2 separate regions of the Homo sapiens genome follow, and region 1 is linked to region 2. Evidence: fine-mapped expression QTL. Tissue or cell type: whole blood. Region 2 holds a variant in brackets; the other region holds the start of a gene. All regions are shown on one strand. Distances are from middle to middle.

What was found. PIP is the estimated chance that this variant, and not a neighbour inherited with it, causes the effect.
Region 1: it holds the start of ALB, and the variant in region 2 is fine-mapped to the expression of ALB in whole blood (TOPMed, PIP 0.96).

The regions. Positions count from the first base shown.
Region 1 is chr4:73,399,437-73,407,547 of GRCh38, forward strand. ALB (albumin) reads left to right here and starts at 4,851. Exons shown (of 15, transcript NM_000477.7): 1 at 4,851-4,970; 2 at 5,680-5,737; 3 at 7,193-7,325. The coding sequence starts at 4,892. RefSeq lists enhancers at 2,986-3,206, 4,479-4,518 and promoters at 3,745-4,906, 4,486-4,891.
Region 2 is chr4:73,255,798-73,263,908 of GRCh38, forward strand. It overlaps ANKRD17 (ankyrin repeat domain 17), which reads right to left and starts at 3,001. Exons shown (of 34, transcript NM_032217.5): 1 at 2,479-3,001. The coding sequence starts at 2,871. ANKRD17-DT (ANKRD17 divergent transcript) reads left to right here and starts at 3,369. Exons shown (of 5, transcript NR_187399.1): 1 at 3,369-3,611. RefSeq lists enhancers at 153-653, 3,054-3,650, 3,253-3,522 and a silencer at 2,693-3,092. The variant C/G (reference allele first, on the strand shown) is at 3,516.

The DNA.
Region 1 (8,111 bases), 140 kb after region 2:
CTTAAAACTTACACTTTTTTGGATCAAATAATTCATTTATTGATGTCAGCGCACACATACCTTCTTGGAAAACTCCTGAGAATTTCAAGGCTTAAATTCCAAGCTTCAGCTGGGTTACGGGTTGAGAAAGTTTTAGCTAAGAACTGGCACTAAAAGATTACAAAACATCTCGCAAAGCTTAAAGCTATAGAAGACATCAAGAAGAAAAAATACCTTTTAATAAAAACATTCTAAACTCTATCCACTAAAATTTCAACATGAGACTATTTTAGCTATACAATCTTAGTTGTTTTATAGAAGATTGATAAAGTTCAATTTTATAACTTTAAACTTAAGTAACAAGTTTCTTGAATTTCATGTTTAAAATATAGAATATGAATAGATTCAAAGTGCATTCATTTCTGTTTAATTTCCATCTGTGGCTATCCTTATGAGACAGGATTAGTATTAATTTCAATTTATATGTTTATAGATTCTATTAGTTGTTAATTTATTAAGAATGGATAAACATGGATTGCAGACATTAACTATATTTTTCTTGCACTTGAAAAACTTGATAAAAAAATATGAGAAAGTCTCATTAATATAGTTTAAATAAGTTTAAATGAACTTTTTATTCTTTAAAAATATTAAGCTGAACTAGCTAGAGCGTAATACTTGAGGAGCAATTGTGAGGCTTAGGAATGAACAAGCTCTCAAACTTGAATCCTAATTGCCTAACTTGATATATTCTTTCCTACCACTCAGGTCCTTTTCTCATTTGATAAGGCTGTCACATTGAAAACATGGAATTGCAGAATGTTCAAGGTAGAAGGATCGTTAAAGATAATTTAGTCCAACTTGACCCATATGGCATAGAGATATATGCAGATCTGCATGTCCAGTTCTGCAGCTAGAAACTGACACTGAGCTGAATTAAACCACACGGAGAAGAACTGAGAAATTTAAAGTAAAAGGTTAGGAAATTCGAATGTATATATATTCCAGAGGCCCAGTGTAACATGAAGAAAGTCAAGGAGAGGGACTCTTTCATCATGGAAGATCTGGGGGCAGAGGGACTTAAAAGGTGGGACAAGCCAAAGATGGTGACCTAGGGTGGTTTTTATGATATAACCTTTTTTCTCCTCATTCCCTATGAAATCTTCAGCCAATTCCATATTTCTCACTAATTCAAGTGAATATCTGGGGGGATGGCTTATGGAGGGAAATAAGGGAGCAATTGTTTGGATTATATTCCAATTTTTTATTTGCATTAGAATACCTATATGTTTATACATTTTTATTTGCATTAGAAATACTTATATAAGTTTATACACTTTCATTCTAACTTTTTTTGAGGGAAATGTATCTCCATAAGTGAATAAGAAGTTAAATTACTGATTATGTTTCAATTGGTTAGTTTGATGCTTAACAGTCTTTCACTTTTCCACTCTTGCATATTTTGTAGAGAGTAATACAAGCTCTTCATGATAGGAAGGATCTGCATATGTTTATTTTATAGTAGAAAAATGGTAAGATTTTCCTGTCCCCAATTTTCTCTCCAAACAAATCCAAATTTCTTGTATTTTGGAATGACTCTGGGTAAAGTGGTTGTTTATAGAAAGTCTCTTATAAAATATTGAGGATATTATTAGATATTATTACATTTCCATGAATATGTTTCCCTTTATCTTTAAGAGAAGAAGAGTCAGAAATATAACCTATCAGAGTGGGAGATGGCATAAAAGCTGGACTAAATGGATTGCTAGATGGAGGGCAAACCTGGTGTGAATGACTCAGTGAGAAGCTTCGGGAGTCCTGAGGGTAGCAGAAGGGTGCGGATTTAAAGTTACTGTTAGAGTGGCTGGAAAATGGGAGACCGGTTCAGAGACATTTTATCTACTTAAAAACTGTGCCTTTTGTATCACGTCAAAGTGAATGCAAAACAAAGAACAAAAGGGTTAAAGGCTCAGGTTTAAATCCCAGGTATATGTACATTTCAATTGAGGTATTTTTTTTTTCTTTTCTAAATGATCAGTACACTTATTCTTTCTAAAGAAAATACTTTTCTTAACTACTCTCTATTTTTAAACTTCTCCCACAAAGATGAGAAAACATTTAAAAATCATTGGGGCTATTTTTCTGTTTACCGAGTAAAGAGAATCTCTAAACCATATTTATAACTCTTACTCTAAATATTTGCATTTACCCTCATGCCAGAGCCCGTTGATGACTGACTAAACAGAGTTTCAAAGTTTGAAGAACAGGAAATTTAGAAATGACTAACAATTATGTAGGTTTATTTCTCTCAGTATAGAATGTTCATATAGAATTAATGCCAGAGGTTTTCAGAGAAAAATGCAGAAATTTTTACTTTGCAAATCCAGAAGATGCAATTGTTCAAGTATTTCTTAAGAAACATTAATTTTAAGTATGCAGATATCATTGAGAATTAAATATTTTAATTTCTAAACTATTAATCTTTTAGTAGGATGCACATATGCAAAATGCCTCATTAGTACTGTAAGAAAAGATTCTTGGCCGGGCGCGGTGGCTCATGACTGTAATCCCAGCACTTTGGGAGGCCGAGGTGGGCGGATGACGAGGTCAGGAGATCGAGACCACCCTGGCACACGGTGAAACCCCGTCTCTACTAAAGATACAAAAAATTAGCCGGGCGTGATGGCGGGCGCCTGTAGTCCCAGCTACTCGGGAGGCTGAGGCAGAAGAATGGCGTGAACTCGGGAGGCGGAGCTTGCAAGTGAGCCGAGATAGTGCCACTGCACTCCAGTCTGGGCGAAAGAGCGAGACTCCATCTCAAAAAAAAAAAAAAAAAAAGAAAAGATTCTTTTAGGTTTCATCAATTTTGTTTTAAAGCTAGGGCTCTTCATTAGATATAGGAAAATCAATTCAAAGTTTCTATTCAGTCATGATGAATTTGAGATTTTTTTAGGTTTCTTTGTATTTAACAATATATTACATTATAATGTTGTGGTGAAAACTAAATGGACTAATATTATTCTTTTCATTTGTTAAATGAAAAAGTATGCACAAAGTATATGTGAGAGTGACAAAGGCCTGAATTTGTCAATTAGTAACAATTGTATTCAACAGTAAGGATTTTATGTTTGGGTAGGCCTTTCCCAGGGACTTCTACAAGGAAAAAGCTAGAGTTGGTTACTGACTTCTAATAAATAATGCCTACAATTTCTAGGAAGTTAAAAGTTGACATAATTTATCCAAGAAAGAATTATTTTCTTAACTTAGAATAGTTTCTTTTTTCTTTTCAGATGTAGGTTTTTCTGGCTTTAGAAAAAATGCTTGTTTTTCTTCAATGGAAAATAGGCACACTTGTTTTATGTCTGTTCATCTGTAGTCAGAAAGACAAGTCTGGTATTTCCTTTCAGGACTCCCTTGAGTCATTAAAAAAAATCTTCCTATCTATCTATGTATCTATCATCCATCTAGCTTTGATTTTTTCCTCTTCTGTGCTTTATTAGTTAATTAGTACCCATTTCTGAAGAAGAAATAACATAAGATTATAGAAAATAATTTCTTTCATTGTAAGACTGAATAGAAAAAATTTTCTTTCATTATAAGACTGAGTAGAAAAAATAATACTTTGTTAGTCTCTGTGCCTCTATGTGCCATGAGGAAATTTGACTACTGGTTTTGACTGACTGAGTTATTTAATTAAGTAAAATAACTGGCTTAGTACTAATTATTGTTCTGTAGTATCAGAGAAAGTTGTTCTTCCTACTGGTTGAGCTCAGTAGTTCTTCATATTCTGAGCAAAAGGGCAGAGGTAGGATAGCTTTTCTGAGGTAGAGATAAGAACCTTGGGTAGGGAAGGAAGATTTATGAAATATTTAAAAAATTATTCTTCCTTCGCTTTGTTTTTAGACATAATGTTAAATTTATTTTGAAATTTAAAGCAACATAAAAGAACATGTGATTTTTCTACTTATTGAAAGAGAGAAAGGAAAAAAATATGAAACAGGGATGGAAAGAATCCTATGCCTGGTGAAGGTCAAGGGTTCTCATAACCTACAGAGAATTTGGGGTCAGCCTGTCCTATTGTATATTATGGCAAAGATAATCATCATCTCATTTGGGTCCATTTTCCTCTCCATCTCTGCTTAACTGAAGATCCCATGAGATATACTCACACTGAATCTAAATAGCCTATCTCAGGGCTTGAATCACATGTGGGCCACAGCAGGAATGGGAACATGGAATTTCTAAGTCCTATCTTACTTGTTATTGTTGCTATGTCTTTTTCTTAGTTTGCATCTGAGGCAACATCAGCTTTTTCAGACAGAATGGCTTTGGAATAGTAAAAAAGACACAGAAGCCCTAAAATATGTATGTATGTATATGTGTGTGTGCATGCGTGAGTACTTGTGTGTAAATTTTTCATTATCTATAGGTAAAAGCACACTTGGAATTAGCAATAGATGCAATTTGGGACTTAACTCTTTCAGTATGTCTTATTTCTAAGCAAAGTATTTAGTTTGGTTAGTAATTACTAAACACTGAGAACTAAATTGCAAACACCAAGAACTAAAATGTTCAAGTGGGAAATTACAGTTAAATACCATGGTAATGAATAAAAGGTACAAATCGTTTAAACTCTTATGTAAAATTTGATAAGATGTTTTACACAACTTTAATACATTGACAAGGTCTTGTGGAGAAAACAGTTCCAGATGGTAAATATACACAAGGGATTTAGTCAAACAATTTTTTGGCAAGAATATTATGAATTTTGTAATCGGTTGGCAGCCAATGAAATACAAAGATGAGTCTAGTTAATAATCTACAATTATTGGTTAAAGAAGTATATTAGTGCTAATTTCCCTCCGTTTGTCCTAGCTTTTCTCTTCTGTCAACCCCACACGCCTTTGGCACAATGAAGTGGGTAACCTTTATTTCCCTTCTTTTTCTCTTTAGCTCGGCTTATTCCAGGGGTGTGTTTCGTCGAGATGCACGTAAGAAATCCATTTTTCTATTGTTCAACTTTTATTCTATTTTCCCAGTAAAATAAAGTTTTAGTAAACTCTGCATCTTTAAAGAATTATTTTGGCATTTATTTCTAAAATGGCATAGTATTTTGTATTTGTGAAGTCTTACAAGGTTATCTTATTAATAAAATTCAAACATCCTAGGTAAAAAAAAAAAAAGGTCAGAATTGTTTAGTGACTGTAATTTTCTTTTGCGCACTAAGGAAAGTGCAAAGTAACTTAGAGTGACTGAAACTTCACAGAATAGGGTTGAAGATTGAATTCATAACTATCCCAAAGACCTATCCATTGCACTATGCTTTATTTAAAAACCACAAAACCTGTGCTGTTGATCTCATAAATAGAACTTGTATTTATATTTATTTTCATTTTAGTCTGTCTTCTTGGTTGCTGTTGATAGACACTAAAAGAGTATTAGATATTATCTAAGTTTGAATATAAGGCTATAAATATTTAATAATTTTTAAAATAGTATTCTTGGTAATTGAATTATTCTTCTGTTTAAAGGCAGAAGAAATAATTGAACATCATCCTGAGTTTTTCTGTAGGAATCAGAGCCCAATATTTTGAAACAAATGCATAATCTAAGTCAAATGGAAAGAAATATAAAAAGTAACATTATTACTTCTTGTTTTCTTCAGTATTTAACAATCCTTTTTTTTCTTCCCTTGCCCAGACAAGAGTGAGGTTGCTCATCGGTTTAAAGATTTGGGAGAAGAAAATTTCAAAGCCTTGTAAGTTAAAATATTGATGAATCAAATTTAATGTTTCTAATAGTGTTGTTTATTATTCTAAAGTGCTTATATTTCCTTGTCATCAGGGTTCAGATTCTAAAACAGTGCTGCCTCGTAGAGTTTTCTGCGTTGAGGAAGATATTCTGTATCTGGGCTATCCAATAAGGTAGTCACTGGTCACATGGCTATTGAGTACTTCAAATATGACAAGTGCAACTGAGAAACAAAAACTTAAATTGTATTTAATTGTAGTTAATTTGAATGTATATAGTCACATGTGGCTAATGGCTACTGTATTGGACAGTACAGCTCTGGAACTTGCTTGGTGGAAAGGACTTTAATATAGGTTTCCTTTGGTGGCTTACCCACTAAATCTTCTTTACATAGCAAGCATTCCTGTGCTTAGTTGGGAATATTTAATTTTTTTTTTTTTTTAAGACAGGGTCTCGCTCTGTCGCCCAGGCTGGAGTGCAGTGGCGCAATCTCGGCTCACTGCAAACTCCGCCTCCCGGGTTCACGCCATTCTCCTGCCTCAGCCTCCCGAGTAGCTGGGACTACAGGCGCCCGCCATCACGCCCGGCTAATCTTTTGTATTTTTAGTAGAGATGGGGTTTCACCGTGTGCCAGGATGGTCTCAATCTCCTGACATCGTGATCTGCCCACCTCGGCCTCCCAAAGTGCTGGGATTACAGGAGTGAGCCACCGCGCCCGGCCTATTTAAATGTTTTTTAATCTAGTAAAAAATGAGAAAATTGTTTTTTTAAAAGTCTACCTAATCCTACAGGCTAATTAAAGACGTGTGTGGGGATCAGGTGCGGTGGTTCACACCTGTAATCCCAGCACTTTGGAAGGCTGATGCAGGAGGATTGCTTGAGCCCAGGAGTTCAAGACCAGCCTGGGCAAGTCTCTTTAAAAAAAACAAAACAAACAAACAAAAAAATTAGGCATGGTGGCACATGCCTGTAGTCCTAGCTACTTAGGAGGCTGACGTAGGAGGATCGTTTGGACCTGAGAGGTCAAGGCTACAGTGAGCCATGATTGTGCCACTGCACTCCAGCCTGGGTGACAGAGTGAGACTCTGTCTCAAAAAAGAAAAAGGAAATCTGTGGGGTTTGTTTTAGTTTTAAGTAATTCTAAGGACTTTAAAAATGCCTAGTCTTGACAATTAGATCTATTTGGCATACAATTTGCTTGCTTAATCTATGTGTGTGCATAGATCTACTGACACACGCATACATATAAACATTAGGGAACTACCATTCTCTTTGCGTAGGAAGCCACATATGCCTATCTAGGCCTCAGATCATACCTGATATGAATAGGCTTTCTGGATAATGGTGAAGAAGATGTATAAAAGATAGAACCTATACCCATACATGATTTGTTCTCTAGCGTAGCAACCTGTTACATATTAAAGTTTTATTATACTACATTTTTCTACATCCTTTGTTTCAGGGTGTTGATTGCCTTTGCTCAGTATCTTCAGCAGTGTCCATTTGAAGATCATGTAAAATTAGTGAATGAAGTAACTGAATTTGCAAAAACATGTGTTGCTGATGAGTCAGCTGAAAATTGTGACAAATCACTTGTAAGTACATTCTAATTGTGGAGATTCTTTCTTCTGTTTGAAGTAATCCCAAGCATTTCAAAGGAATTTTTTTTAAGTTTTCTCAATTATTATTAAGTGTCCTGATTTGTAAGAAACACTAAAAAGTTGCTCATAGACTGATAAGCCATTGTTTCTTTTGTGATAGAGATGCTTTAGCTATGTCCACAGTTTTAAAATCATTTCTTTATTGAGACCAAACACAACAGTCATGGTGTATTTAAATGGCAATTTGTCATTTATAAACACCTCTTTTTAAAATTTGAGGTTTGGTTTCTTTTTGTAGAGGCTAATAGGGATATGATAGCATGTATTTATTTATTTATTTATCTTATTTTATTATAGTAAGAACCCTTAACATGAGATCTACCCTGTTATATTTTTAAGTGTACAATCCATTATTGTTAACTACGGGTACACTGTTGTATAGCTTACTCATCTTGCTGTATTAAAACTTTGTGCCCATTGATTAGTAACCCCTCGTTTCGTCCTCCCCCAGCCACTGGCAACCAGCATTATACTCTTTGATTCTATGAGTTTGACTACTTTAGCTACCTTATATAAGTGGTATTATGTACTGTTTATCTTTTTATGACTGACTTATTTCCCTTAGCATAGTGCATTCAAAGTCCAACCATGTTGTTGCCTATTGCAGAATTTCCTTCTTTTCAAGGCTGAATAATATTCCAGTGCATGTGTGTACCACATTTTCTTTATCCATTAATTTGTTGATTGATAGACATTTAGGTTGGTTTTCTACATCTTGAC
Region 2 (8,111 bases):
ACTGCAACCTCCACCTCCCGGGTTCAAGCAATTCTCCTGCCTCAGCCTCCCAAGTAGCTGAGATTACAGGCATCTGCCACCACACTCGGCTAATTTTTTTGTATTTTTAGTAGAGATGGGGTTTCACCATGTTGGCCAGGCTGGTCTCAAACTCCTGACCTCAGGTGATCCGCCCGCCTCGGTCTCCCAAAGTGCTGGGATTACAGGCGTGAGCTACCACGCCCGGCCAATGGGCACACTTTCTTACACGTATTTCTCCTGACTCATCTTCATAAATGACAAACCCATTGTTTAACACCATGTAAAAGACAGGATAAGGTATGTTAAAAACATAGAAATACTACCATAGTTGGTGAAAGTCAACATAACCATTCCTATATTACAAAAGGAAAACAAACCTGACCCACAAAATAAACATACCTACAAACTTACAGCCATTCTTCATGATTTAAGGAATTACTAAAAGTTCTGCTTATTAGGCCGCATTCCAATGGACAAAACTACCTAGGTATGTTAAGTTTGCAGCAGAATATCCCAGTAAGTACTGCATTCAACTATCATAACCTTGCTCTAAACCAGAGCTTAATAGTTTCACGAGAATTTAAAATTTTAAGTAATGGTATTTTGCCTATAGCTGCATGATTGTGTTACCTTGCTATTCAGTAACTATTTTTCTGAATGATATCAGGAGGGTGATAAAAGGAAATAAATTATTATTAAAAAGTGTACAGGTCTGAGACATTAGAAAACTTTGATTTGTACTTTTGCTACTACCCACCACAACCACTTTCCTCTAAACCTTGTTTTCCTCCTTTTTAAAATAAAGGGCTGAATTACCTGTAAAATGTTTCTCACCTTTGAGAAGAATCATACAATTGAATGATTCTAAGTACCATAACAAATTTTATTAGGGATAAGGACCCCATTACATCTTTCTCTTCCTTGTTTCAAATGCCGCCAGAGCAACACACTATCCTAAACATCCAAGTAGGCCAATATAAGTCTATCAATACAAACCTATTCTCAGAATCCAACAGGCTAAAAGGGAATAAAAACAAGGACTGGCATATTTTTGTCATACATACTTCAGCACTTAATATCTCTACCTATACAACTTCATCCAGTCTGAGATAAAAGAGAATCTGGTCTTCTACAAATAGACATGTGTCAAATCCTTTAAAAGGTACTTCTCTATTTCAACAGAGACCAGGATTCAATAATTCCAATTTTCGGAAAACCAGACTTGCATCAAAATAAGTTCCATGTTTGTGGAAGAGAATAAATAGTAAGTGGTACTTTTAGATGAATCACTTGGTCTCCTCTTAGAACTAAGTTTAAAATCAGCCTTTAAAGCTGTTTTCCCTCTGCTGATAAAGATTTCCCTCTCCAAATAAAGATTTTTCTAGATTCTATTTCAGGAAGGAGACAAGAGAGTGGTAAAACAGCTAATAACTAGTAAAGCTAACTCTCAGTTGGTTGTCAGTATGGTATGTTTTACTGAGCCTTTGGGTTGTAAGGGCTTCTGTGAGGAATAAGGTCCTGCAACGCCGCCTGTCTGTGGACCCAGGAAAAATTATAAAGTTATTATGAAACCAGATCACTAGGACAAACCGAGAGGCCTTCCTATTCCAACTCACCACAACCAGGCCTGGCTCCAAAGCCTACCCTTTGGCTGTCCCATATTACGGGACAACAGGTCCTAGCTTAATTCTAACTCACTAAGGAAACATTCGAAGGCATGTATGTATGTACGTGTAAGGATCAAATATATTTTTCATCCACTTACAAATGTATATGGTCATTTGTAATTATTTAAAGTTACTGATAAATTTATACAAATACAGCATCAGTTCATCGAAAATCCCTGGGAGATCGAGGAAATGAAGTTACTTCAGCAGCCAGGATAGTTACGAAAAACCCTGCAGAACAGTATGGAAAAGTACAGCTTCTCACGTGTCCCTCACATACACAAACACTTAGCTCTGAGTCCATTACAACCTTACGTCCCCCCTCAAACTGCTCCCCTCCACCTCACAACTGGGAGAAGTTGATCAACCTCCTAGTTGGTCCCCAAGAGACTCATTTACCCATTATTTTACTCCTCCCGCTTTGATCCCGATCCCGCCTCAGACTAAGGTGGCCCTACTGGCCCCAGGCAGACCACCCCCCCACCCCCCGGCGTGCAAACAGGGAATCTAACCAATTCCCTCCATCCTTAACCAAGTGAGCCATCCCATGATAACAGGCTGTTCACCAACTCTGTGAACTCCGTGGTCCTCCCACCCCCACGTGTCAGCTACCCTCCCCCACATTCCCACACCTCACGATTTAGGCCGAGGGAAGAAAGGGGGCAGTCGAAAGCCTGGCCCCTAAGAGATCAACCCACTGGAATCTGTCCCACTCCAAATCCCCTCCCACCTTCGGCCCCTATCCCTTACAGTCCCTTCCTCCCTCCTTCCTTTGAAACCAGGCCCTTGCCTCAGAAACCTCCTCTTCCTCGTCGTCGTCGTCCTCTTCTTCCTCGCTGTTGTTACTGCTGGTGCCGCCGCCGCCACCTCCGCCTCCACCGCCGCCTCCACCGCCGCCGCTGTTGTCGCTGTCGCTGCTGCTTTCGCTGCTGCTGGGGGGTCGGCAAGTCCGGTTACGCTTGGCCTTGTGGTGCTGCTGCTGCGGCGGCTTCTTCTTCAGGAGCAGGTCGCAGACTCGCACCATCCCACGAGGAGACGAGGCCGAGCGAGCTCTGCTGCTGCCGCCAACGCCGCCGCCGACCTCCGCCGCCGCGGGGGGGCCCGCCACAGCCGCCACCGCCGGGGGGCTCCCTTCTCCTTCTGCAGCCGTCGCCGCCGCCACCGGAACCGTCGCCTTCTCCATCCCCAGGGAAAGAGGGAGGGCGCGGACGGGGGAGGGGCGTGGGGCTACGCTCTACCGCGACTTCGGCCGCACTGGGGCCGACACAGCAATCGGTGCCGCCTCCGCCGCCACCGCCTCGGTCACCTCTACTGCCGCCGCCGCCGCCGCCGCTCCGCCAGCTCTCACCTCGTCTCGCGATACTAAGGGCGGGGAGCCTGACGATGGGAGGGAGGGAGGGAGGGAGAGGGAGGGAGCAAGGGAAGGAGGGTGAGGCGTAACAGGGAGACCGGGTGTCGGGAGAACCAGAGGAGAGGAGACTGGAAAGAAGCGGGGAAGTGTGCCTGGGGCAGCTTCCGAAGGGGAACGGCGGGGACAGATGAGGGGGGCGCGATTGCAACCAGAGCGCCCGCGAGCTCCCGGATTTCTTCTCTTTCCTCGCTATTTCCCGCACACACAGCCCTGCAGCCCTCCCTTCTTCCTTCCTGGCTTGTGATTAGAACGCAGCCGCAGGCGGAAGTGCAGTGACGCCATCAGCCGTCGCCTGAGCCGTGGCGCGCGGGTGGCCGAAAGGCGAAAGTGAGATTTCAAGGGCCGGGTCTGGGGCCCCGCGGGCGCGCAGTGCTGCGGCGTGTGGGGAGTACGGGGAGGCTGGAGAGGAGCCGGCC[C/G]CGGGCAGTGTGAGGTGCGGAAGCGCGGTCCAGACACTTTGCTGACGGGAGGCCGGTCCGCCAGATCCGGGAGGTGGGGCCTCGTTCTGGACTGCTGTACGTAGTTTTATTCCTGGTCATTTTTTTCCACCGCCAAATCGAGAGATAGAGCTTTGGATCATGAGAGATGGCGTCGTGTTGGGAAAAGAGCCTTCTTTACCTGAGTTTAAGCTCGGCTCATAGACATCCTCTACCTGAGTTTACACGTGTGTAATATGAAGGCAGTCGATTAGGAGATGTCTAAGATCATTACTTACACCTCAAGTTTCCAAGGGGAGGAAGACACGGGAAGGATGCGTGGTCTGTGCCAGACTTTGTAGACGATTCACTGAATGACCCTGATTTAGCTCTTCCGGCCCTCTTCGATTCAGCTTGGAAGCAAGCATAAATAGTGATTGTTGTCTGTATACTTCTCTCGGAAGGAATGCTGTTATGGGAGTTGTGGGTTCATTTTTAGGTGTCTGAAGAAGTTTCAGGACTTTTGAAATGATAGTGGAGCCCATTGAACTCAGAATTATCCCTTTCTGGTCTAGTAGGAGTATAGTGGCATACGGAAAATGAAGCAAACATCAAAGACAGATGTACTGGCACAAGATTAAAAGTATGTCTCAGCTGACATAGTTGCCATTTTAAGACTGCTTAGTTTAGCTGAATATGCCTGGATTTTTTTTTTTTTTAGCATTTTTTTTCTTTTTAGCATTGGCATACCATATGAAATGTGGGCAGTTGCCAGTACTCTACAGAGTACCAAGGCAGAATTGGCAATGACTAAATCAATTCATTCAAACAAAAATTCATCATGTGCCTACTGTGCGCATAATTTGTGGAATCAAAGTCTCTTGTTTCCAGGGGCTTTACAGTGTAATAAGTGCTATAGTAAATATATATACGGAGTGGTAACCATCTGCCTATTCCTCTCCTACAGTCGTTGCTGAGTTCCAGTGTAGAACAGAGCACTGCATTGTGTATCTCACCACTACTGATTTAGATTTTATAATTTCAGCTGCATCCCTCCCTCCTACTTTGTATATTCTTCAGCATCTTTTTCTCCCTTTCCACTTGAATACTTTTCGCAATCTTTAAATCCCAGCCCATTTTATTATATGACTTTTAACTTAGACTTCACAATTTTCCAAGTGCTAGAAATTTCCTGAGATTGCCTTTTCTCCAGTATCAACGAATGAGAGACTCCCTGTTCATATATGAGATAAACTCTTCATACATATTCTAGTTCCAATACCCCTCTTTCTCATGCATTTATTATCTTTTCTGTTGTCAACCTTCTACAAATTCTGGTTCCTTAGCTAATTCTTCTGTAGCTTTCAATTATTTCCTTCACAAGCAAACTTTCTTTCTTTAAAAAGTATTCTATACTCAGGAGGCTGAAGCAGGAGAATCGCTTGAACCTGCGAGGCGGAGTTTGCAGTGAGCTGAGATCCTGCTACTGCACTCTAGCTTGGGCGACAGAGCGAGACTCCATCTCAAAAAAAAAGTGTCTACAATCAGTGTCTTTTTTGTTTTCTGAAATTGACTTGTCAGCCCTCTGCAGTCTAGTCTCTGTGTCTATCGTGCTGTGCTACCAAAAATGCTCTCTTTAAAGTAATCTCATTGTTTGGAAGAAAATGAGTTTTTTGTTCTTTAATATAATAGTGAAATGATGATCCTGTTTCACTAGTAGGATAAGGTTCAAAACTATTAAAATGGACAAGGCATGTAAAGTCACTTTCTTTTATTTTTATCTTTTTTTCCCCCCGTTAGAACCTCTGGCAGGGACTGACTAGCCCATGAAACTTATTTCTTCTTCCCGGGCACACAGCTAAACTAAATTTCACAGCTTTCCTTGTAGTTGGTTATAGTCATGTGATGAACTTCTTTTTTTGAGACAGAGTTTAGCTCTTGTTGCTCAGGCTGGAATGCAATGGCACAATCTCAGCTCACCGCAACCTCCGCCTCCCGTGTTCAAGCGATTCTCCTGCCTCAGCCTCCCAAGTAGCTGGGATTACAGGCATGTGCCATCACACCCGGCTAATTTTGTATTTTTAGTAGAGACACGGTTTCTCCATGTTGGTCAGGCTGGTCTCGAACTCCCGACCTCAGGTGATTCCCCCACCTCGGCTTTCAAAGTGCTGGGATTACGGGCGTGAGCCACCGAGCCTGGCCGTGATTAACTTCTAGCCAATTAAATATGAATGGAAATGATGTGCTCATTTTTAGGGTTAATGAAGTCCTCCTATTCTCCCTTACTCTTTCTTCGTCAACTTGATGCCTTTGAGCATGGTGACCTTCAAAACTATGTATTGGAGATGCCAAAGCCAGAAAAGAGAAGAATGAGTGGCTGAAACAGTACTTGGAAGACAGCCACCCCAATTAGAAACACCCCTTTTTGCACTTACTGTAAGAGAAAAAATTGAGATTTGAGAATTTATATGTATAGGAGCTAGAATGACCATAGCTAGTCCAGAAATTGGTACAAGAAGTGGAGTACTGCTAAAACAATAACCTAAAATATGTTACATCAGCTTATTTATGATGCAGCAGGTGGTAGAGAATGTGATTTGGAGGCTAGAAAAAGGAGGCCCATGTTTGCAGTGGCAAAGTAATTAGTAAAACTGTCACCTGAAATAATTCAAAATCAGATCACCTATCTGTTTAGATTAGCTCCAGAGGAAATGATTGAAAAGAGCAAAAGTAATACTGTGTTGAATTTTACATTTTACTTTTAGTAAGGTTTTACTAAAGAGAGAAACTCAGGAAATACTTCACAGAAGTGAGAGTGTACAGGAATATTTCTCAGGAAGGGTTGGAAAAGTTGACTTTTATAAGACTTCTAATAAAAAAAAAAAAAAAACTAGAAGAGGTCTTGAGTATAGTTACCCTTGAGATTAAGTCCTGCAACAAAGATCAGGAAAAGGGTTTGGTCTTTCCATTCAAAGTCATTATTTTAGATGGCTTCAAGATAGCTACGATAAAGGTCTAAAGGAACTGGCATAGGAGCAAGGCAGCAAAGCAGTAAATTAGGCTTGATAATTATGTAAGAAAGAACTTTGGGTGTAGTTACCAGAAGCAAATCAATCAGAAGACTACATTTTTAGAGGAATTTTATTAATCATACTAAATCTGGCTCAAATATCATTGTTCGGGTGTTAAAACAGAGGGTAACTGTCCAACCCCAAGCTTGCATAAGTAGAAAAATAGAGCATAAAACCTTAACAGCTCCCCAGTACCCACACAGGATGTGGCCATGGAGAATGATGGACAAAAAAAGAACATTTCAGAAGCTCGTATAAGGAGCTGTACTAAAGACTGGACAGGGAGTTTCTCCTGAAGACTAGAATTGGAGTTTCATCAGAACTTTCTTCAGTTTCAAGGAGATGGGCCGCAAAATGTTTATGCAGTATTTCATCATTATTATACATGAATAGTATTGCTCAGTATCACATTTTTTTTCTGAATGAGAGAATGTATTATAGTTATCTGTCCCTGAGTTACCACTATATATTGGGTTTGCAGGGATGGGGGTGACAATAAAGATAATTTGTCTTTTTAGTTCTTAGGTCACATCTGTACCTAATGAAGAGAACTGCACATTTTCTGAAAATCCTAGACTTTGAGCCTGTTCCAGTAACTGGTTAAAACTTTAGATTGTCTCCTTTGGGACAGGGTATGTTCTGTGTGTGGAAAGACAGGTAAAATACATGTTTAGTGATCAGAATAGTAGATTCTTGCAAATGCTAAATTCTTCTGGCCACACAGCTATATTTCCATGCCTCTCTTGCAATTAGGTATATGGGTTAGGTGTGCTGATTAGGTTCTAACCAGTGGAATGTGAGAAGTGATGCACTCCTATTCCAGCTCTGGCCTATGGAAACATCACATGAGCAATCCAATATATCCCACTCCCCATCAACTTGAGGCAGATGAGCAAATTTGCACTGGAAACTATGTGTTAAAGATGGCAAAGCCGCAAGATAGGACTCCTGGTTTCCTGAATCTTCACTTGGAGGATACTTGCTTCCCAATTAGAGACACTTGTGCTAGAGTTTCCTGACTCTTCACTGGGAGGATACTTGCTTGCCAATTAGGGACACTTGTGCTACAGCTCATACGCATTCTTTTGTGTTAGGCCACTGAGATTTCAGAGCGTGCCCTAATAAAGACCTGTCCCTCTTTCTCCAGATGCAATCGTTCATTACCTAATTCTAATTTTTATACCACAGGAGTAGGCCCACAAATCAGGCTAGCCAAAGTATCCTATCATTCAGCCATAGTGATTAGTTCAGGAATGGGCAGATTAACAAAACTGAAGTTAATCAGAGATAGTCTTATCATTTGGGCTAGCACTATCAAGAAAAAGACACCTGCTTCTGGAATAAGCAAAAAAAAAAAAAAAAAAAAACACAAGCTACATCTGGCCTTTGGTCATCATGTCGAGTGAACCTGCCTAAGAATGAAATCTTACAGGGAAACAGAGGCAGTCTCAATGATACTGCAGAAGGGGAAGATATCCCATGAATTGAGAAATATTTCCTGGGTTTCTACTCGATTGAAATTCCAAGA